Linked DNA regions of Homo sapiens. The protein of the gene in region 2 interacts with the protein of the main gene of each other region in a biochemical or structural test. Each region holds a gene or a part of one and is shown on either strand. Other genes may lie near its edges.

What was found.
Region 1: the proteins of SLCO1C1 (region 2) and APBA2 interact in a test that uses a peptide from one of them, tested with the Homo sapiens proteins (one large-scale study listed by IntAct).
Region 3: the proteins of SLCO1C1 (region 2) and PATJ interact in a test that uses a peptide from one of them, tested with the Homo sapiens proteins (one large-scale study listed by IntAct).
Region 4: the proteins of SLCO1C1 (region 2) and SNTG1 interact in a test that uses a peptide from one of them, tested with the Homo sapiens proteins (one large-scale study listed by IntAct).
Region 5: the proteins of SLCO1C1 (region 2) and PDZD2 interact in a test that uses a peptide from one of them, tested with the Homo sapiens proteins (one large-scale study listed by IntAct).
Region 6: the proteins of SLCO1C1 (region 2) and PARD3B interact in a test that uses a peptide from one of them, tested with the Homo sapiens proteins (one large-scale study listed by IntAct).
Region 7: the proteins of SLCO1C1 (region 2) and ERBIN interact in a test that uses a peptide from one of them, tested with the Homo sapiens proteins (one large-scale study listed by IntAct).

The regions. Positions count from the first base shown.
Region 1 is NC_000015.10:29,112,974-29,115,894, reverse strand, and holds part of APBA2 (amyloid-beta A4 precursor protein-binding family A member 2), read right to left. Parts: intron 2,020-2,921; coding exon 1,879-2,019; intron 1-1,878. UniProt on the Homo sapiens protein: Putative function in synaptic vesicle exocytosis by binding to STXBP1, an essential component of the synaptic vesicle exocytotic machinery. May modulate processing of the amyloid-beta precursor protein (APP) and hence formation of APP-beta.
Region 2 is NC_000012.12:20,722,832-20,726,331, reverse strand, and holds part of SLCO1C1 (solute carrier organic anion transporter family member 1C1), read right to left. Parts: intron 3,243-3,500; coding exon 3,078-3,242; intron 1-3,077. UniProt on the Homo sapiens protein: Mediates the Na(+)-independent high affinity transport of organic anions such as the thyroid hormones L-thyroxine (T4), L-thyroxine sulfate (T4S), and 3,3',5'-triiodo-L-thyronine (reverse T3, rT3) at the plasma membrane.
Region 3 is NC_000001.11:62,116,480-62,119,979, reverse strand, and holds part of PATJ (inaD-like protein), read right to left. Parts: intron 3,449-3,500; coding exon 3,301-3,448; intron 2,849-3,300; coding exon 2,762-2,848; intron 1-2,761.
Region 4 is NC_000008.11:50,701,907-50,705,406, forward strand, and holds part of SNTG1 (gamma-1-syntrophin), read left to right. Parts: intron 1-2,667; exon of another isoform or gene 2,668-2,693; coding exon 2,694-2,846; intron 2,847-3,500. UniProt on the Homo sapiens protein: Adapter protein that binds to and probably organizes the subcellular localization of a variety of proteins. May link various receptors to the actin cytoskeleton and the dystrophin glycoprotein complex.
Region 5 is NC_000005.10:31,645,631-31,649,130, forward strand, and holds part of PDZD2 (PDZ domain-containing protein 2), read left to right. Parts: intron 1-3,500.
Region 6 is NC_000002.12:205,615,975-205,619,474, reverse strand, and holds part of PARD3B (partitioning defective 3 homolog B), read right to left. Parts: 3' UTR 1-3,500. UniProt on the Homo sapiens protein: Putative adapter protein involved in asymmetrical cell division and cell polarization processes. May play a role in the formation of epithelial tight junctions.
Region 7 is NC_000005.10:66,052,075-66,055,574, reverse strand, and holds part of ERBIN (erbin), read right to left. Parts: intron 2,170-3,500; coding exon 624-2,169; intron 517-623; coding exon of another isoform or gene 409-516; exon of another isoform or gene 1-408. UniProt on the Homo sapiens protein: Acts as an adapter for the receptor ERBB2, in epithelia. By binding the unphosphorylated 'Tyr-1248' of receptor ERBB2, it may contribute to stabilize this unphosphorylated state.

The DNA.
Region 1 (2,921 bases), on a different chromosome or scaffold from region 2:
CTCCTCAGGCAAGCAGGTCTCGGGCCCTGGGCTGAGCAGCCCAGAAAGGCACATCGCGCAGCTCTGCTTCTGAGCGTTGCCCTCCCTCCCCCGCCGGGATCTGTGTGGCCGATGTAGGTTTCCGCTGCTCCTGCTCCCGGCAGGGGCTTCCTCCATCAGCCATTCCCCGGCGTTCCTCAACCAGAAACCCACCCCGAGGCCCCTCGCAACTGCAAGCCTTGTTTATCAGCGACTCATGTTCCGCGTGGGCTCAGAGCTGCTGGAAACAGGCACCATAACCTCGGCAGGGCTGAAAGGATTCCAACGCCCCGGCCGCCTCCTGCCTCTTCCCCGTTCTCCCGCCCGCTCCTCCACGGGTGGATTTCCTCACAGGTGTGGGGCTGCTGGCCGTGGGGGCGGCCGCTTCAAAGCATCTACTTGGGAACACTGGCTTTTCCTTTCTTTGAAGCCATCAAAGGGAGGCTGGTGTCCGCCTGGCCCCTCCTCCTCCTGAGCCAGACCCCTGCCCCCACCAGTCCAGGGAAAACAGGCCTCCCAGCTCCCAGCCGACCCTGCAGTGCACAAAATACCAGTGTCCCGATGTGGCTCCTGGAGACCTCATCCGAAGAACAGGAACTAGAGACCCCTCCACCCACCCGCCCACCCACAGGCTGCAAGGATGGTCGCCACGCACTCAGCCTCACAGAGCCACCAGGGGGAGCACCACAGACGGCCCGGCCTGCTGCTGCTGTCCCCAGACCCAAATTCCCTGCCCGGTCCCCAGCGGGCCCCTCTGTAGGCCGGGCTCCTCAGCTCTCAGCCTCCCGCCTCGTGCGGCCACCACGCTTCCCAGAGAGCCTGCAGCCCCTTTGTGCTGAACACCCCTTCACACACCCCTACACACACACAGACACACCCACTCACACTCTCCTCACACCCCATGCCTCACACCCACTCACAGACCCACAGCCACAGCCGTGCACACATACACACTCATGCTTGACACCCCATGCTCACACACACCCACAGCCACACACCCCTGCACACACCCACACTCGCACTCCTACACACCCCATGCTCTCACACACACACGTACATCCGCATACACTCACCCACACACACACACTCCTCCACACGCACACTCAGGTACATTCACACAGCCACACACCCACACCCATCCACTCATGCACCCCTATACACCCACGTGCACGCACACACTCATTTCCCACACCTACCCACACTTACCCACACTCATACATCACATCCCACACACACCCATGCTCTCACACATCCACATGCACACACCCACACTCGCTCACACTACACACACACACACACGCACACCCGCTGCGCACTGGCCAGGCCTCCCCCGGTGTATGTGCCACCTCCCCAGCACCATCCCCCCTCCCAATGATCCTGCCTCCTTGTGAGCTCTGGAGGAAAACCTGCACCTCCCCCACACCATCCTCACACTGCCGTGGAAGCGATGCCAGAAAGAACTGGACTGTGGGGGGTTCAGCCAGTGAAGTGGGACAGGGCAAGCAGCCTGGCTGTGGGAGGGGATGGCCAGCAAGGGCAGAGAGGCAAGCCTGCCAGGGTGGCCAGAGCTGTGTGCCCTGCAGAGCTTCTGAACTGGACATACAGGTCCAGTCCCAAAAGTAGTGTCCAGGGAGCACCCCCAGCAGCCTGTGCCCTCCCGGTTGCTCAGTTAGAGCCAGACCGGGATGGCTCCGCATCACCTGCCGCTCCATTCACCCTTGTCACAGCAGCCCCGATGGGAGACACAGCCTGGCTGACCTTCAGATGCCCTGTGTCCTCTGGAGCGGGGGAGGCTCATGGAGGGCAGGCGGGAGCACGTGGGAACCGGCATGCAGAGGCACACTCAAAGTCCCTCCTTACCTCTCCGACCGAGTTGGACAGAGCTTGGACTATCTTCTCGTGGGCTGTGGCCACCACGCTCTGCCCGTTGATCTCGATGATGCGGTGGCCCACACGGACGCCCCCTCGCTCAGCAATGCCCCCTCTCATGAGGCTGCAGATCTAAGCAGACATGGCCAGGTCAGCACACGTGTTCCCGCCACACCCGACAGGCGCTCCACCACGTCCCCAAAGATGGGACATGCAGAGGGAAAAGCGCCACATGATGAATACGTGCACGTGCAATTCGCTGACTCACAGACAGAGATCCTTATGATATGCAGTATGTTTCTTTAAAACAAGAGAGTTAATGCCATGGTGTGTGGGGAACCACCAAGTTTTCTGACTCCCACGGTGGAACCTGTCCCCCAGCTGCACCTCCCCCAGGGCCGCTCCCTTTGTGGTCAGGCTAGAGACTGGTGACACAGCCCAAGGCCACTGCCACCTGGCCTCCTACGGCACAGCCTGGTTACCATCCTGGAAGACAGGCACTTAGCTGATGGGCGGGCGGGAAAGGAGAGGCAGCCTGTCCCCTGGCCACCAGAAAGGTGGGGCATCTGTTCTGTCAAGGGAAGGCTCTGTTTGCCGGATGCCCAAATGGTCTACATCGACAGGGAAGAGTCACTTTATTCCTACATCCCCCCCCCGCCAAGTGACGTAAGGGCATTTTGTGCCAAATATACTGGTTCTGGTTTTGTTGGAGACAGGGTCTCATTCTGTCACCCAGGCTGGAGTGCAGCGGTGGGGGCTTCCATTCCAGCCTAAAAGTGACGCCAAACAGATGGACAGGAGGGCCTGGGAGCGCCTGTGACCACGAGACTGGACAGAATGGAAAACAGGCGCCGTGCACACCCGTGTTCACAGCAGCAGTGTTCACAACAGCCGAGGGTGACAGCACGGACTAGCGGAGAAACAGAATGTGCTCTAGGCCTGCAGGGAAACAGTACTCAGCCCTGGAGAGGAGGGAGAGTCTGAAGTGTGCTACAACACGGACAGACCTCGGGGACACTATGCTGCATGAAACA
Region 2 (3,500 bases):
GGAAATGTGCTTCTTTGTATCTATCTCATATTTTATTGCAGGAAGATCATTATCCCATAGCCCAAGTTAAAAAAAAAAAATAAGAAAAAGAGAGGTTGAATAGAAGAAGAAAAGAAAGAGAGAAATAATATTTATTGAACGACAGATATACGCATTTACTATGCATTTTATCTGTATACTTTCATCTTTATTTCAACCTAGTGATATATTTATTTTCACCATCGTACAAATAATCAAAGTAAGGGTGAGAGGATATTGAATAATTGGCCCACTTACGCTTAGTCGGCTGCACCCCATACTTACTAATGTGAAACCAATATGATCTCAGGAACAATCCTAGCTATAACGATGTAAAATTGTTAGATACTATTACTTATCTCTCACAAAAGTATTTGAATTATCTGTAGATATGACATGTCAGAAACTTTGAAGAATAGAGTTTTAGGTAAATGCAAATTAAACCACCATGAAATACCACAACCATACCGCATAAGAATGGTTACAGTGAAAAGAATTGACAATTCCAAGTGTTGATAAGCATGTGGGGCAACTGGAATGCTCTTACGTTTCTAATAGGAGTATAAATTTGCACAACTTCCGTGTGTTTTGGCAATATCTACTCTATTTAAACACATATTCTCCCTCTGACTTAGCAACTGCACTTAGCAGTATAATATAATATATATTATTATATTATCTATTATAGTATTATAAATAACTATTAGTTAAAAGAAAACAACACAAATGTCCATTGCACTCCAGGGTATAACCATGAAAAATGAGCATAGTGGCCCACCAATGTACATGTGGAATGTTGTTTTCTGCTTTTAACTATTATAAATAATTTTATAATAGCATTATTATTATATATTATAGTATACATAATATACTATATATAATACCAGATGTTACTATATTATTATAGTATTACCATATATCATATATTATACTATATTATCTGTACTATATGTAATATACTATAAATTTTAATATAGCATATAATACTATCTTATAGTGTAATATGCTATAATATATTATAAATAATATAATATATATTATATTAATACATATTAAAATACATATTTTTATTTGTATTTTTTCTTTCTTTAACTATAATTATTTAAAATACTATTATAAATAATTATATGATTTATAATATAAATAATAATTATAAAAATTATTAATATAAAAAGTATTTTATATATTATATATGATAGTTATATATCATGTTGTATATATTATTTTATATAATTTATTATAATATATATAATATATAATTAATACATATTATATACATATTAATATATGTTAGATATTTTAAATATATGTTTTATAATGTAATTATTTATACTATCATAAATTTATAATATTACCTATAAATATACATATAAATACATAATGATTTATAATGCTATTATAAATAATTGTATGTATAATTATTTTCATAGTATATGAAATTATATATTTATAATATATATTATTATATTATCTATTATAGTATTATAAATAACTATTAGTTGAAAGCAGAAAACAACACAAATGTCCATGAACTATAAAATGAATAAACTGTGGTTTATTTATGTAATAAGATATGACATAGCATGAAAAAGAATGTACCACTGCTATGCACAATATAAAATAATCTCATAGATTTCACTTCAGTTGAAAAAAGCTAGACACAAAAGAGTATATAATATACTATTTAATTTATATGAAGTTCAAAAACAGGCAAGGCTGGTCTATGATAATATAGTTTAGTATAGTTATTAGCTTTGGGGAAAAGTTTTGACTGATAGGAGAGTTAAGCTTTCTGGGGAACTAAAATATTCTGTATGTTCTGGATGCTGGATGTGACACACACACACACACACACACACACATATATATATATATATATATATATATATATATATATATATACACACACACACACACACATTATATATATCAAAATTATCCATCTGAACTGTTTAAGGTCTGTAGACTTAACTGTTGATAAGTTATATCTCAATGTAGACATAAAAGTGAAATAAAATAAAGTCTCTCTTAAACTTTAAATCCTCATCTATTCATGTTAAAATCAATATAAAGCATTGATTAGCATGCATGGGGTGTTGGAGAAAAAAGCCACAAAATATTTCTTTAGGTCAGCCAATAAGTAATAAAATTAATTTAAATCAATTGATGTTAAAAGTAAAAATGTTCAGTAACGTAACCTTAACATCAAGAATTTTGGAGAAAAATCTTTTAAAACTGTCAATTATATTAGCATGTGCTATATGCCCATTACCCAAGATTATCATAGAAAAATTATATCTCCTAAAATACATTTGGCTGTTTTTTTCTCCTTCCAGGTCTCTTTCAGAGGTAGAAATATAGACTGATTTTTACAATACTAGAGAAAATTATTTTATACCACTGGAGTCTCCTATCATAAAGGAATATGTCCCAAGAAACAAATATGTTATGCCTTGAAACAGTAACATTAAATGACATGTTCATGGATTAAAGAAACGAATCTTGATTTTTAAAATATCTAGTTGCTTCCACAGTGGTGGTCATGTATTTGTAAGTTCTGGTTTCTCTTCTTTCATTTCTTCATACTTTTCTATCTTATTATTGACTGTGTTGCTAGAAACACAACCCTTTGAACTAACTCAGTTGCCAGGAGTCAGAAAAGTTTTTTGACCGCGAAAATACAAGTTTTGTTTTGGAATGAACATCTTTTAACCTATCTCATTGTGCATTTTATATAATCCTAGAAACTGTTCATGTAAAATGGCCACTGTTTTGAGGTTTCGGCTGCACTTAAAAGACAAATATCCAGTATTATTAACAAACTCCTCATAAAATGCATGTTTCATCTCTATGATATCACTTCAAGAACTGCTTGCTCTCTGGGTTACTTACCCACAGATGTGAATAATTCTTGCTACAACATTCTTGTTACTTTTTGAGCTCATCTAAAATGTCATAAATTACCTAAATCTTGGAAGAATCTTCTCGAAGATTCCCGAGTTAATCAGGTACCTCTAAGACAGTCCCTCTGAGAAAGCATGAAAGGCAGATGAGCATACCGATCACAAAGTTGGCCCTGGAGGATGACTGTCCATACTGCTGCTCAATGTACTTTGGTTTGTACGTCACCATGCCGAACAGAGAATTGAACTGAACAGTGCTTGTACATAAATATAGGAAGTATACTGGGTTTCCAAAAAGATTCTTCAGTGATGGAAGAAAATCTGTAAAACAAAAATAACATAGACTAATTAAAGTTGGTGTCACGCATGGAAGAAGAAGTAGCCGTGCTGGCAGGACTTACAGGGCTGGGGCCCATTGTCACACAGTTTGGGAGTAGTCACAGTGTGGTACACACATACACTATGTATATAGTAAGCCACTGGCATGCGTCAAGCCTGCGATCTGGCCAGGTTCGAATCCAGACATAGGCACTCATTTCTACAGACATGCAGTATAGATTATATTAAAGGTAGGAGTCA
Region 3 (3,500 bases), on a different chromosome or scaffold from region 2:
TGTTTGCCAAGACCTTTATTGCATTGTATTGTAATTTTTGAGGAGTCTCCCTCTGTCACCCAGGCTGTAGTGCAGTGGTGCAATTTCAGCTCACTGCAACCTCCGCCTCCCAGGTTCAAGTGATTCTGTTGCCTCAGCCTCCTGAGTAGCTGGGGTTACAGGAGCCCACCACTATGCCCAGCTAATTTTTGTATTTTTAGTAGAGACAGGGTTTCACCAGGCTCTTTGGCCAGGCTGGTCTTGAATTCCTGCCCTCAAGTGATCTGCCCGCCTCGAACTCCCAGTGCTGGGATTACAGATGTGAGCCACCACGCCCGGCCCCAAGACGTTTATAAAAGTACACTTTGCCTGACTGTGTTCCCTTAGTTGGCTGAGGAAAAGATCTCGCAAGTATTTTTTCCTCTGTGGAGTAAGGAAATTTCTTCCTGGTTTGGGGGAAAGTCATTTTAAAAAAAGACACTTGGTGGCCCCAAAGCTAGAAGTTATTTCTCTCTTAATGAACTCACTTTCTATGAATTAAGTCAAGAGCTTATTCTCCTTAGCGCTCAAAAGAAGGCATTGATCTCCCTATTTTGTAACTGCTCAGAAGGAAATCTGTGTTCCTACAAGATCCTGATTTTTTAAATGGGTCTGGATGTAAAAATGTTTGGCAATGGAATCTTGTTTTTGCCCACCAGGGTCAGTCTTCAACTCATCATGATGGGAAGACATTTCCTTTTCACAGTCGGCTACCAGCCTTCTTCTAATTAGCCAAATAGGGCAAACTCTTCTATCTCACCCATAATTTTAAGCACAAGGTGATGATAAGATATATTTACTGTTTTTAAAAATTGAATTAAACTCCTACCCTCTGAAATTAAAATTCTGTGTAAGAAGATTAGGGCAAAGTATTTGATACTTTGTCCCAGGTTTCCAAAATATGACAACTCACATTCATATACCAGGTAAGTGGAGACGATAGGTTTTTTTTTTTTTTGATATTTAATGATGTAGCTTCTAAATTTGGTAGTTCTGTCTTTGAGTGTGAACTTAAAAATTATGAAGATGCGGCTGGGCGCGGGGGCTCACACCTGTCATCCAGGCACTTTGGGAGGCCGAGGTGGGTGGATCACCTGAGATCAGGAGTTTGAGACCAGCCTGACCAAGATGTTTTGAAACCCCGTGTCTACTAAAAATACAAAAATTAGCCGGATGTGGTGGCGGGCACCTGTAGTCCCAGCTACTCGAGAGGCTGAGGCAGGAGACTCACTTGAACCCGGGAGGCGAAGATTACAGTGAGCTGAGATCGCGCCATTGCACTCCAACCTGGGCAACAGAGTGGGACTCCGTCTCAAAAATAAATAAATAAATAAATAAGAAGATGCTCACATACATCTCTCAAGAGGGACAGAAATCCATTTCTATCCACTACCTTACCTATCGATCAGTCCAAACTTTTCTTAAATCACACAAACACCTGTTACCTCTTTGTGCCTTTGTGTATGCTATTTTCCCTGTCTGAGATGCCTTTTCCTTCTTTTCCCCAAACTCCATTTGGAGTGAGATTCAATGGAACCTCCTCTGTGTAGCTTCATTCTAATCTTCTGTATACAATAAGGCTTTAATGAAATCATTCAACAAAGATGAGTCTTCCATTAAGGAAGAAGCCTGGCTAGACAACTGTTTCGTTTGTTGATATAAGTCTGGTCAATATCATCACTAACTATTAACTCATGGAATCCTACAGCAGCACCATGTCTTAGATATTTGCTGCCCATTATGTAAGCCAGAAATGAAAAAAAAAAAAAGTGTTTCAAACTTAATATGGTGTTTATTGGGTTTGACTGCTTTGAAGATTCCCTAAGACAAGCCAGCTAGTCTGTAATCCTATCTGAACAATGGTATTTTCCTCACTCATTTTTTAACACCAGTGAGGAACAGGAGGCAGCTAATAGCTTTCCAGAAGTAACTGTGTGCTAACTGTAAGATCAGAGCACCTTCTGAACAAAGGCCTTGGAGAGGCTTCAGAAATAAGGCAACCAGGGAGGGGACCAAAAGTCATGCTTTTAACCTCAAAACTAAGGCGGCCTATCCATAACCCAGAGAGGAGACTTAGGGGTCACATATAAGTTTCTATAGTCTCATTATGTACCACATGGGGCTAACCATACAGTCTACCATCTTGATTTTGTCAGCCATTACAATGAAAAAAATATAGTGAAATATACTTTGCTAAAAAAAAATGGCACTTACATCAGCTTTGCAAATAAATATAAGATGTTTGCTAACCCACAAAATATCACCCACTAAGCCCTCCCTCCCACAGGAAAAACCCCCACACTTGGTTCTCCTAGGAATATGCCATTAATTGCCCTCGGCATGTGTGAGTGGCTAGTCACAAGTTAACTTTATAGCAATATTTAATTGAATGAATAGAACAATGTTGTGCTAATGAGGGTCAAATTGCCACCAGATGTTGCCTTTTTTTTTTTTTAAATAAACACAGCTGTGTACATGCGTGCATAGGCAATATAGAACTAATAGAGAGAAAAGAGCTTCCAAGAAAACATTTGCAAGCAATAAAGGAGAGAAAAATCTAGGGATTAATGAATTTCCATCCCACCTTTCATTTTTATTTCAAACACATGAAAGTTCACTAAACTTGGTGCTGTGAATATGCTGTACATTAGATATTATTTCCAAACAACCATTTATTAAATGGGGAACTTTCTCCCAGTGGGGGCAGAAGAGTGAGTCAGTCTGATGAGAAGCCATCGACAACCTGACTGTTCTGTGATGTCGTCCTTGCGGAGGTCCAGGAACCAGCTCGGAGTCTTCCAATCTCTAGCTGCACAAGTCCCTGTGCACACTTGGAAAGGCAAGAAAAGAACAGAAATGAAAAGTAGTAGCATTTATATTCTGAAATATCTTAACAGAGCCTCTCCCTGCAGCCACAAATTATAAAAGGGTAATGAAAGCAACAGGCATAGCCCTAGAGAGAGGAGGATGAATTCTGTGGCTCCTGGAGGGCCCATCTCATCAAATGCATTTAAAGAACAGTGATGGATACTTAGAATTCTCACAAGTATGAAAAACTTGCTTGTGAAATCCCAAAGCAGGTTCCCTTTCATTCTGTTAGTCAATATAACAGAACTTTCTTTTAAAGCTATTCTGGCTCATTTAAAATAATCAGAGATTAAATTTCTAGTAAAAACTAGAGTTAGTATAAAATCCAACCCATTTTATAATCAAGCTAGACTGGAACAGTTCCCACTGGACTTCAGTTGTGCCAGCTGGGTAAAAAGCAGCCTAGCAACTCACCTTGAGGATGGTGGCCACTGTCTCCTGTGAGGCATTTCTCATGTCCTCCCCATTCACAGATAAGATCTGATCTCCCTGAATCAATCTCCCATCCAGGTCTGCGGCTCCGCCTTTCACGATGTCAGAAATAAACACTCCGCTTCCATTTCTGTTAATACCATACAGCAGTGCAGTATTGGCACAACCTAATATTTCCATGC
Region 4 (3,500 bases), on a different chromosome or scaffold from region 2:
GTGGCACAGTCTTGGCTCACTGCAACCTCCTCATCCTAGGTTCAAGTGATTCTCCTGCCTCAGACTCCCACGTAGCTGGAATTACAGGGATGCACCACCATGTCCGGCTAATTTTTGTATTTTTATTAGAAATGGGGTTTCACCATGTGGGACAGTCTGGTCTGGAACTCCCCAACCTCAAGTGATCTGCCCACCTCGGCCTCCCAAATTGCTGGGATTACTGACATGAGCCACTGCGCCCAGCCTCTTATTTTTTTTATAATGGCATTTACAATAATTTGTACTAATATATTTACTTGTGTAGTTATTATCTCTCATTGTTCCCTCCATAGATATTATAACCCCAAAACTACTAAAAAGTATTTATAATTTATCATTAGATTGTACTCTCAAACATATTATGTTTTCATTTTTTTCTCCCTTCAGACAGAGTAGGAAAATCAATAAGCACAGCATTTATCATCCTTTTAGCTTTCTGAGCATCTACTGGCAGCAAGGGTCAGAGCTAAATTCTACAACCCTGGAAGTAAATGCCTTCCATTAGCTCTCTTCCAGCAATTATAAGAATGCAAGCAGGAAACAATGAAAATAGTTATTATTTTTTAAACATTTGCCAAAGCAGAGAATTCCATCTAACATTTTGGGTGTTTAATAATGATACACTTACATCCCTCCTTATGAGAAATGATTACAGATACCAGTGATTAACCCTTTGACAATTTTCAGTACACTGCATAGATATAGCATATATACAGTCATTTAATAACTGAGATATATTTCAGGAAATGCCTCTCAGTTAGATGGTTCCACTGTTGTACAAACACCACAGAATTTGCTTGCACAACCTGAGACAGCATAACGTACTGCACAGCGAGGTTATACAGTACAGCCTATTTCTCCTAGGTTACACACCTGTATAGCATATGACTGTATTGAATACTGTAGGCAAAAGTAACATAATGGTAAGTAGTTGTTTAAACACATCTACACATAGAAAAAGTAAAGTAAAAGTACAGTCTAAAAGATTTAAAAAAAAAATGATACACAGATACAGGGCACTTACCATGAATGGAGTTTGCAGAATGGTAGTTGCTCTGGGTGAGTCAATGAATGAGTGATGAGTAAATGTGAAGGCCTAGGATGTTACTATACAGCACTATAGACTTTATAAATACTGAGCACTTAGACTACACTACATTTATAAGAAGTATTTTTTTCTGCAATAATAAACTAAGCTTAGCTTACTGTAACATTTTTTACTTTACAAAGTTAATTTTTTCAACTTTGGCCTTTTTTGTAGAAGTGCTTAGCTTAAAACACAAACACATTATGTAGCTGTACAAAATTATTCTATATCCTTATTCTCTACATTTTTTTTCTACTTTTAAATTTACAAATTACTTTTTTATTTTTGGCTTTTTAAAATTTTTATAAAAAATAAGACAGAAACACACACATTAACCTTGGCCTGCATATAGTCAGGATGAGTTCCATCATCACATCTTGTCCCACTGGAAGGTCTTCAGGGGCAATAACACGCATGGAGCTGTCATCTCTTATGATAATGATGCCGTCTTCTGGATACCTTCTGAAGGAACTGCTTGAGCCTGTTTTATAGTTAACTATATTTTTAATAAATAGAAGGAGTACACTAAAAAAATAGGAGTACAGTAAATACAGTAATATTTACTGTATTACTATAATACAGTAAATACATAAACCAGTAACATATTCTTTCTTATCATCATTATTATTATGTAGCATACATCATAATCGTATGTGCTAGACTTACACAGCTGTCAGCACAGCAGGTTTGTTTACACCAGCATGACCACAAACACAAGAGTAATGCATTGCTCTATGACATTACAACGGCTATGACATTGCTAGGGGATAGGAATTTTTCAGCTCCCTTATAACCTTATAGGATCACCGTCGCATATGCAGTTCATCATTAACCCAAACATCCTTATGCGGCACATGACTGTATTTAAAATGCTATATCTGACATGTTGCATTGGGTTACTCTGTTTCATAAATTATTTGCTTCACTTTTTTTTCTCATGTTAATGTCTCTTAAATTGGAATATATGTAAATTTGTGAACACTTCAGTTGAAAACTTCTGGTAAGACCAAGAAATTGCCAGCATCAAAGTCGTTTTTTTGATACAATGAAATACAGTTACACAAGTAAGGTAAATAATGCGTTTTTTTTTAAGCAATATTATTGCTGTAGACAAATTAGACTCATTTTCTTTTTCATTTCTCATGGAGAAGAATATTTTGGTTTGCTTATAAAGTTCCTTAAAATTTACAAACATGTTCACAAGCATTATTTAATTTCAACATCATAACAGTTATGTAAGGAAGGGAAGAGATAGTGTGTCACCCCTTTGTAGAGTAATAAACCAAGTCTTGTATGTTAAATGCTTTGGTGGTTATATTGTTAGTAAGAGATGAAGCCAGAAACCCTAACTTCTATTTTATGGACATGCTTCAGTGTAAAGACAGAGAAGTCATGTGTTGGGGCTTTGAAGCCCGGAGTTCTGGTATAATGTCTAATGAAGACTTGGTGAATTCGCAGAGTGTTGTCTTTTTACCTGTGGCTTCTGCACCTTGGTCCAGTCAGGAATGGCCAGGTTAGCAATGTGAAGTGATGTGTGCCAGCCTGTGTAACTCCAGGTTTTCACCAGGACAGTGACCTGCTGGACCGACGGAAACAGTGCTTCACCGTGCAGTCTGAGTCTGGGGAGGACCTGTACTTCTCAGTGGAGCTGGAAAGTGACCTCGCCCAGTGGGAAAGAGCCTTCCAGACAGCAACCTTTCTAGAAGTAGAACGGATACAGGTGAGAGTCTGTGGGACTGCAGGATGTGTGGCTCCCTCAGATGCATGACCACTTCCCTAGAGTTCTAATATCATTCCAAAGTAGTGTAAAAATACAGTTCTGGGAATCTTGACCTCATATACATTCTATAATTAGCCATTTTTGTTTAGTGACTAGTAATACAGCTCTGAATAAAATTTTAATTTTTCCACGACTTGATCTTTCCAGGCTATTTCCTACTACTAATTAAAAATATATTTCTAATTTTAATTAGACATTACTCTGACTTAAATCTAATATAGAAAATACTCTGATTTAATGAATTGTTGACAAGGTCACTTCCTGTTCTCCAAATATGACCTCCTAATTTCCAGCCTGTTGGCGTCATTTACTCACAATGCTCTTTCCCTTTGCCTCCATCCTTCAAAGCCACACAGAGTTTTTGAGACTTTTTATCAAAGGTCATATCATCCAGGAACATGTCCCTGATTTCCAGTCCACCCTGCCTAATGCTTGCCAATACTCCTTCTACAACTATCCTGTTCAAACAACTCTTCTTCTCACTTTTGAACACAATATAATGTACTTTTCTGGTTTTTTTACAGATAAGAAAACACAAACTAATCAATTGTATTCATACTACTCATGAAAAGCAATTACATTTTTACATGAAGT
Region 5 (3,500 bases), on a different chromosome or scaffold from region 2:
GGCTGGTCTCATTTTTACCAACACTTGGACACCTCTAGTACTTGGCTTTACAAGCCCTAGACTTTATCATCCAAGTTAACACAACAGACCCTGTTGTCCTGGCCTCAGGACAGCCATCATCCTGCTTGGCTAAAAATAAAGGCAGCACTCATATAGTGTAGAATTAGTATTCCTACCGTGAGCAGGGGCACGCTTTGTGCTGTGGCTACCCCAAAGTCAATTCCCTGGCTGGGACCTGCCAGCTCAGGCAGTGGGAGTTGTACTGGGAGGAGGGTGGGAGAGATGGTAAGTTTGGATCTCAGTGTACTCAGTAGGGGGAAGGGGGTGGGGAACTGGGCTGCCTTACATGGGAGGCCTCCGGGCATCCCCAGGCAGCTGGTGGGAGGAGAGAGGGTGTCAGGGAGCTTTGCACTGCGGGGGGGCCTTCTCACTACTGTCACTCCTAGGGAGATCTCAGGATACCTAGGCGGAAGAAAATAAACACCAACTCTTTTGTCCCTTTCACCAAAGGCCAGCATGTTTCCGATGCCTGTCTAAGGTGAACCTGGCTTGTCCTGTTTACACGTCCTGGGATGTTACTGTAATTCCAGTATTCCAGAAGACTCTGTTTCTGGAGACTGGAGAGGCAAGTGTATTTTGGGGTAGCCATAATATCTTGGGTTGGTGGGTACAAGTTTGAACACCTAGTAATGCCCCTTACCCCTGAGGAATTCCAGGGACTGAGCCACCACAAATGTCTTCAGGAACCTGACCCCTCCACGTCATGAACACTAAGTAGCTCCTGACACTGCTTATGTTTGCTTGCAGGTGATCAAATGGAATCATACACTCTCTCCAAGAGCACGAAGGTTTCTTTTTCTTTTTCTGTTTAATAAAGCAAGATGTCAATAAACTCTACATTTTTGTGTGTTGGCCAATGGACACTTATAAAATGTCTGATTTCAGCTGTGTTTTCAGTTGAACACCCCCCACCACCCGCCCAACACCCTCTTTCTGGCACAGTGTGTTTTATGGAGATTTGGGTAAAACTAGATTGTGCTATATGGGTCTCCTGATGAAGAGAATTCACTTCCAAGGCTAAAGCAGCCATGCAAATATTATTACAAAACCACTCAGCATACAAAATTGGCATAGCTTTCCTCCACAGTTTGCCACTGCCCACTCTCCACTCCTACCCCGCCCTGGCCACCTTAATTCCCAGTATCATTAGGCCGAAAGAAGGGACAGCTGTCTCCAGAAAATGTGCTCCGAGTGTCCCCATCAGCGTGGATTCCCAAGAGAGAGCAGGCAGTGAGATGGCACAAGGAGAGGAAGGTACTGGAAAGAATTGCATTAACTCCTCTCTGGACTTACTGCTCATCTTTAAAAACCTAAGCAGATGTCAGGCTTATTGATTTCTTTATTGGTGGCAGCTGTGGAGCTGCAGTCCACTATTTTTGGCACCTGGGAGATGCACACGGCCCCTGAGCACACTTCCCGCCTTCTGATCCCTCACCTGCTCAGCTTCCCAGGCTCCGTCTTTATCTTGAGGATCTCTGAAGACTGCCTCTTCCCCTGTACTCTTCAGGATCCAGTACAATGCCTAGTACATGGGTAAAAATTAAAATTATTTGAATGTTCACTATTTGGCAGGCACTGTTCTAGACACTTGCCACATACAGCTCATTCAGTTCTCATAATCTGATGAGGTACATACTGTTATTACCCCATATTCATTTCCTGGGGCTGCCGTCAGAAATTAGCACAAACTTGTTGTCTTAAAACAACTGAAATTTATCCTCTCACAGTATCCTCTTCACAGGTCCGAAGTCTGAAATCAAGGTGTTGACAGGGCCGTGCTCCTTCTGGAAGCTCTAGGGGAGAATCCTTCCCTGCCTCTTGCAGCTTCTGGGAGCTGTGGACATTCCTTGCACTGCTTCAGCCCAGTCTATGCCTTTGTCTTCACGTTGCTTTGTCTGTGTGTCTGTGTCTTCTCTCTTGTCTGCATGTCTCTACTTTGTGTGTCTCATTTATAAGGACATTTGTCATTGGAGTTAGGGCTACCCAAATAATTCAGGATGATTCCAACTTGAGATTTTTAATTTAATTACATCTGCAGAGACACTTTTGCCAAATGAGGACACATTTGCAGGTTTTGGGATGTGGGTATATCTTTTGGGGAGCTACTATTCAACACAGTACAACCCCTTTTGTGATGGAAAAATGGTGATACATTGTGGTTACGGAATTCTCTGAGGTTGCACAGCCAGGAGTTGGTAGAATTGGAATTTACACACAGCAGCCTGGCTCTAGAGCTTGCATATGGACCACTACTCTCTTTTGCCTTTTAGTAAATGTGCTCCGTGATTGTTCACGGTATGAATGGAGGGCAGCATGGCTGGGGAAATAGATGGATGAAAAGATGCTGGTAACAGTAGTTGGCCAACATTCTCCTTCTCAATGTACTGAAAATAGTAACAACAACTGATATTCATTGTTTTATGCTCTTGACCTGGGACTCGTCCTTGGATCCTCTTTTTTGGCTATTCTAGGGAGAGCTCAACTATCTCGAGGCATTGCCTACCATTTATGCACTTCTGCCTTCCAAATTTATGTCCATAGCCTTGATTTCTCTGCTGTGTTCCAGACTCATGTGCCCCACTGCCCCCTTACCATTCCAGTGGGGGCGTTATAGGGATCTCTAACCTAACACAACAAAATGCAATCCTTGATATGTCTCTTTCAAGCTAGTTCTTTCCTTCTCCTCCTCCCGTCTCAGTAAATGGCACCACCATCCACCCAAAGGCTCATTCCCAAAACTAGAAACCACTCTTCATTCTCTTTTCCCGACACTCTGTATCCAAATCCAGGAATAAGTCCTGTTGGCCCCACCTCCAGCCTCCACCTTGTTCTCCCGCCTCCACAGCAGCCGCCCTTGTTAAAATCACTGCCATCTCACCCCTGGACCCATGCTGCAGTCATCTTCTAACCGGGCCACCTGAGGACACCCTTGACCCCAGTCCTTTTCCTCCGAGCAGCCAGAGGGGTCTTTTATTTTTTTAAGACTTTTTTTTTTTTAATATAGCAATTTTAGGTTCACAGCCAAATTGAGAAGAAATTACAGAGATTTCCTGTATACCTCTTGCCCCTACACATGCAGAGCCTCCACTCTCATCAACATCCTTCACCACATAGTTCATTTGTTACAGTCGATGAACCTGTGTTGGAACATCGTTATCCCTCGAGTCCATAGTTTACCTTAGGGGTTCACTCTTACATTCTATGGGTTTGGATAAATGTATAATGTCATGGGTTTGGATAATGTGTAATGTCATGTATCCACCATTATATTATATGAGTAGTTTCACTGGCCTAAAAATCTTCTGTGCTCTGACTCCTATTCATCCCTCCTGCCCCCCAACCCAGAGGGGTTTTTTTGTTTGTTTTTTTAAGAGATGGGGTCTCACTGTGTCGTGCAGGCTGGTCTCAAACTCCTGGGCCCAAGCGGTCCACCCGCTTTG
Region 6 (3,500 bases), on a different chromosome or scaffold from region 2:
CGTAGACTCAGAAAGCAGTAGGGTGTTCTCCCAATTTAACACCAATTTGAAGGCCATTGATTGTAGGTTTCAGAGTTTAATGCCAAAGGGAATTGTACAGACACACATTCAGACCAAACTCTTTAGATCTCTCGACCCTCCTGAAATGCTACAATGTTCCTCCAAAGAAAACGAATGCAGTGGTTACAGGTTTGGGGAAATAATTACTTTTTTATAGGCTTGATATTTGTGCATACCAGGGAAAAGAGAAATGAGCTTTATGAGCCTCCTAACATTGTTAGGTGGCTTTTCTTCAGAAGATCACTTTAGCTCAAGAATTTTATGAATCTTTGGAGGGGACAATGAGTCATGTTTTAATTTGATTGACTTGGTGGAAAACTATAGCTACAGTGAAGCCTCTGTTCTTCCCCATCAGGATCCACGGGTGACAGTCGGTCTCAGAACCCCTACTATGCTCTTAAGATCTTTACTTGGTGCCATCCTGTGGGAGTCAACACATATATATCTACAGATCTAAGAATAATGAGCTTCAGAATAATTGTTTTTTCAATTTTTGTTTGCTATTAGGTTATGATTTAGGAAAATGTTCCTGTTTCTGAGCTTGTATTTCATCCACTGATTTGATATTGTTAGGAAACGGTATTATGGCAAGGGTGAGAGTGCCACAACCCGATGGCATAATGGATTCTGGGGAGGCTGTGTTTCTCTCCCTTGTGGAAGTCTCAATTCTCCTGCATCTAAAAGTTTTCAATGGTCTGTCCTCTTTCATCTCTCTACTCCTGCAAAAAGGGAGAAAAATAGGGCTTCTTAAAATATCTAGTGACTTGAGGGCAAACATCATTTCACGGCCTTCATGACCCAGCAGTCAGATCTGCAGCCAAGTGGATGTATGTTGATTGGGTTTGGAGCTCAATGTGCCACTCTCTTCCAGGGGGGCTATTAGTGTTCTGAGCTACAAGGAGACACCGGATTGAGTTTTCCCAAGGCCATAAATAAATTGGGAGCTATTTCCTGCTCCCAGGCACATTACTGATTATAGCCTGGTCTTCTAAATACTCTAAAAGCCTGTTCCCCTAAATGCTGGGAAAGAGTCCTGTAACCTCTGGGTGGTAACAATTGAAGGGTGAGTACACGGGCATTTATAAATCTTACACTTGAGCTGTTAATTGTTGCTTGGCTTGATGGAGCCTCTGTCTGTCACAAATATAATGTTAGCTTCTTTCAGGCAGGATCAAATGGAGCGTGTGTTATACTTCAAGCAAGGAAAGAAAACTGTTGCAATCTAGTTTTTGTTCACTTTAATAGTACCTTCACATCACTGGCTGCCATTCAGGATTAGCAACTATTTTATTGACTTTGTATGCAACACAAAACCCAGCTTTGGAGCAGTTTACCCTGAGCCTGTGTGCAGGAGGTATTGCACACTCTGGTGGCAACGCTGCAGGTGAAAACATGGGCACTCTTCCTGTAAAGGCCACTCCTTCAAGACACAGGATTCTCACCTGACACCATCACCCCTGGCTGCCCCTCAAGTGGCCTAGGCTTAATCCAGAAGGAATGTTCTGGCTTGGCTATGTTTAGTAGTCTACAGTAGTTTGGTTAAAATATGGAACATAGTGAAGAGCTGCTGGTTTTTAATGCTTCAAAACAAGTTACACGTCCCTCGTGTTATCATTTTCCTTAAGGTGTATTCAACTCGAGGGGAAGGTAGCATTCAGCAGGTCAGCAGGGAAACCGGTAGCTCCCCTGCACTCCACCTCACGTGAGCAGGGCCTGAGATCCTCAACCACTTCGAACAAATTGCAAACACTCTAAAGGTGCCTGGCTTAAGAGAGATGACAGAACAGAGACAAAAAACTTGATAGTCTGTTTTCAACAGGGCCATAGTAAAGTGTAGTTAAGAAAATAATATCACAAAGTCCAGTAAATAACACTATTTACATCTAAAACTAGCAGTTGCATCCTTCTTGGTAGCAGAATACTATTTTAAATTAAAAAGATAAGAGTAAGCTGGGGTAGAGGGATGTCCTATGTATTCAATAATACTATAATTTATTAAATCCTGTGAGTCAGAGGTATGCTAATCTCAGCCAAAATAGACCTAAATTAAACTCAAGACTTTTTTTTTTGGAGGGAATAAAGAAGGAATGTGAAAAGGCTTAAAGCATTTCAAATGTCAGTGCCTGGTTCAAACCAGTGCTCAGGTTTTGCTGTCTTCCACATCTTTTGCTTGTGTTCTCATTTGGGCCAGCTTGTATGTTTTAGAGGTTTTAGTTTCCATAGAAAATTACTGCAAAGCTCAGAAAACATTGTGATCTACTTAGAGGTTGGGGTTTCAGCTTTTTAAAGCCATAACACTGTCCTTTGCCAATTGGAGGCCTTGGCCCTGCCCTGACCTGACTTTAGCTAATGAAATATAGCAAATGCAGATGGATTTAGCCTTAGCGCCTTTTCTCCGTTTCCCCCACTTTTGCATCAAACTCTCCAGAAAGCATTATTAATCTTTCATTCTCCATACTGGCAATCATATGTGTTCGAACACACACATACACACACACACACATACTCTCTCTCTCTCTCTCTCTCATTCACTTCCATCTAATACCTGCTGGTCATCAGAGGCCATGGTCAGCTCCTCGCTGTCCCCGAGTGCAGATGGTTACTGCTTGGCACTGAGTCTGGACTTGGCATTTCCCAGGGCACTGCCTCCTGTGAGACCTCCCCAGTAGGCCCTCTTTCCCAACTACATTTTAGCCCTCAAGTGGGAACCTTAGAGACCCCAGTTAAAGTAATTATAGGCAGGAGATTTGGGGCTGACTCTGAAACCAGATATCTCCATGCCTGGAATGTGGGAGGGAGGAAGGTGAGGGCCGTGGGATGTTGAACCCTCTTAACCTGATCACCTTAGTCCTCGGAAGATATTCCTTCTGGAAGCTCTGACCAGCTGTGCACATCCTCCCGGGACTAATACTGCATTTTACCGACTTTCATATCAAAAGTGAGGAAACATGAAATGTTTACATCCAATGAGTGGTATCAGAAACCTGATAAATTCTACAAATAAATGCAGTCTTTCTCTCGGTACAAAATATTTCAAGATCACTAGTCATGTTTGCTGTTGTTTTTTTTCTTAGTCAAAAAACCTATACTCACTTCAGATGCCTCTATCTCTGTCTGCTCTGCCACACCTTAGACTTAACAGCTCTAAGAAGGGGGCTGAGGCTCCACCTCGGAGCGGGTAATGCTGCCTGGCAGAGACTGCCTCTGGACCGCCAGTCTCAGAGGGGGATGTCCACGTGTCTGCACATCAGCACAGGTTATCTAGCCAGAGAGGATCCCCAGAGTAGAGTTCCATAATTAGTTGTTTGTGTGTTCCGTTGCCACTCTCACTGATTTGAACAACTCTGAAAGCGTTTCAACTATCAGGTAGTTTTGTTTTTATAGCCCCATCTTTCGTCTTCCTTCTGATTTTTTTTCCTCCCCAATTCCCTTCCCCTTCT
Region 7 (3,500 bases), on a different chromosome or scaffold from region 2:
ACATCTACACATAAAATTATAAATTGAACACGAGCATTAGTTATTTAATCAACTATTGCTAAGCAACACTAGAGCCACAGAAACACTTAACTGAGTTTAAGTAGGTCAGAAATGTAGAAATTCAGAAAAGTTAAGAATAAATGCCATGCCAGAAGCCATCTGTGTCAGTGACAATGTTAGTTCATATACTGTGGACTGGGGAAAAAATATTAGATGAAATATTTACATTTGCAATACATTTTTTGTTATTGTCTTAACTATATAGTAAACTATTTTTTAAATTTAGATAATCAACAATTATTAATAGCAAAGTTCAGAAAATGCTGAACAGAGGTACGTGTATTTTTAGTATGTGTGCACAATCTCAAAGAGACAGACACATAAACATATAAAATTAATACATTTTTGTTAGAAACAGTGGGGAGTGAAGGAGAGGATAGAAACACACATTATCATCCCAATTGTCCTGGCTGAGTTTAAATTTGGAACTCTATTCCCAGTACCAGAGAAAAACACCTAGAATATAAAGAGATAATCAGTAATTCAGAGAATCTTGTTTCATCATTTTTAAGGAAAATAATTAAGTTCATAAAGAAAATAATGAAAAACTCATGTTCAATTACCTTTTCTAACTTTTTGGCTTCAATATGTCGAAGTACTTGTTCTCTCCAGTCACGAGGAACTTTACTTTTTCCTGGAGGATCTAATAAAGAATGCTCAGAACCAACCCTTGCATTTGGTCTTTTTGAAGGACTAGTCCGTGAATAATTGAAATCACTAACTGACATAGTTCTCTCTGGTATTTCATTAATAGAGGGTCGAGCACTCTGAGGTCTTGATGCATTTGGACCATCTATGCTGTATGTTCGTGCAGAAAGGGGTCTCTGTGATCCTGGCATCATTGGAGGAGTTCTTCCCGCTGAGTGGAACTCTCTGTATGATAAATAATCTCCTTCAGGAATCTGAGCCCGCCTTGTAGAGCCTGGATCACCAAGATTTACAGAGGCTGTGGAGGACACACTACTTTGTCGCTGGATTGTACTTCGAGTTACTGCAGGAATAAGTCGGTCGTTTGGTGAGATGGCCCACATTTCCCCATGTCTTGCTGGGCCAAGTCTCTGATGTAAATGGTATGCAGTATTAGCTCGAACATTGTTATGATTAGAGAAATTCATATTGGCAGAATGTTTAGCATAACTTTGATTTTCTGTGCTCTCTGATCTAGGAAGGAGCTGAGGAGGAAAACTGGCATGGTCTATTTGGGGATTTTGTTTGGAGTGCCACAAAGTGTCTTTGACTGCAGCACTGCTACTGTATTGGATATTATACTGTGGAGGACCATATATTTGAGGTGCAGATTGTGGGCCACTTGTGGGGCCTCTTATTATATTTGGCTCTTCGGGATTATGATTTGAATCAAACTTGAAAATTGCCTTTGTTCCTGATATTAAATCAGAAGATGAGGAAGAACCAGTAAATACCTGCAATGGTTGATCATACAACAGTGTGGCAGACTTGCTCCTGACTATATTTTTTCCATCAACAGCAGATGTGATTTTAACGGTTGTACTTGGCTGCTGAGGTCCATTATCACTAAGAATATCATAGATTTTTAGCCCTCCAATCTCCATATTAGTTATGCTATGAGATTTCACAACAGATCCAACTGGACCACTTTTCTGAGGGGAGAGATCTTCAGTGCTTTTGGAAATACCTAAGTCAACAGAACAATCACTGTCATGTGGTTCAGTCCTATTAGGAGACTGGGAAGTTTCCTCAGAATGTCCATTTACCTTATTTACGGATTCCAAATTAGGATACTTGTTTCCATTTTCCAAGTGCTCAGTTTCCTCTTTAGAATTAATGCTTAAAAAGCTTGTTCCAAGCACAATATCCTGTGTTTTTGATCTTTCCATGATCTCTGGTTGAAATGTATCATTAGTTATAAGTTTATTAAGATTCATATTGATATGATCTAATTTGTGAGTGTCATCAGCTGTGGCTGTTGAGTCAACACTTTTCTCAATTAGAACTAATCGCTCTTCAACATTCAAATCATATTCAGGTAAGTTAAAATCTTTTTTATCATGAGCTTTGAACTTTTCCTCTGTTGAACTGTTTAAAATATCTCCATTTTGTAAAAGGCTGTTAAAATTTTCATCTTCTTGCCTAAAATAAAGATAATTTTATGAAAAACATAATAAAGCCGAGTTTTCTTAGTAACAGGGAACATTAATAAATAAATTGTGTAGGTAGACAAGTTAAAAAAGTTAATAAAAGTCAAAGACAAAAGGCATTTATTATCAAGCATGTAATTTTAAAATATTATCTTAATAGTTAAAAGAGCTTTATATTCAGTTGGAGACAAGTAATACAATTAAAATTCATAGATAATACCAAGATTAATTTTCATCAATACACTCAATCTGATTTGTCACAAAATAATTTAAAGGGCTGAACTATGAATAAAATTTTAATGTTTGCTGCATCTTTTCATGAATGTGCTAAAAAAACAAAATGCTTGAGGGAGGGCAGATATATGGAGAGAAACCTAGTAACATGAATAGTGGAGTAAAGAGCAAAGGACATTTTTACAGTTAATTTTGAAGCCTTACATTATTAACCAAATTAACCATAGTTAACGAAGTACACAGTTGTTATTACATTCAAATATATAGGTAAGAAAATTGTACAAAGCAAAGAACTGAATAATTGTCCAAAGTTTAACATCAAATATGTAAAAGGCATAGAAAGATAAATGAAGTCTAATCACTCTTCTAAGTAGCTAGCTGTATTTGGTAAATACTTTTAAATGTGTCATTCCAAAATTATACAAAATATTTTATTTCTACCTGTGATATTAAGTATTTGTGTCCTCTTGTATACATATTCAAGTTATGTTTCCACAAAAATTCCCTAATACTGGTCTTCCCATTACAAAAAAGATAACTTTCATTACTAGAAATACAGCACAAAAAGGTGTTGCTGTATTCCTTGCTTAGGCTTTATTTCATTATATTAAAAGCAGGATTTAGAAAATATCATACCGCTTTCCCAACAATAAATAAAATTTTATTATTCAACAAATTAATACGATAATATCTAGGAGGTTATAAAAATTAGTATTTTAAACAGCAGCTCATAGCTTCAAATTCAAAGAATAGAAATAAATGATTGATTGTGATTATAATTACACAGTACCTAAACTCATTTTCAGGCATAAAATTCACCTCCCTTTTCCAACAACACGCATTAATATATACAAATTTTACTTAAATATGCCTGAAATTTAAGAACAACTCTAAATGACTATTAAAAATATCCACACATTAAACTTTTGGTTTAGTAGTAACCCCGATCTTTTTTTTTTTTTTTTTGAGACCGGGTCTCAATTCTGTTACCCATGCTGGAGTGCAGTAGCCTGATCATGACTCACTGAGGCCTAAACCTCGCAAGCTCAAGTTAACCTCCCACCTTGGCCTCTCGAGTAGCTGGGACTA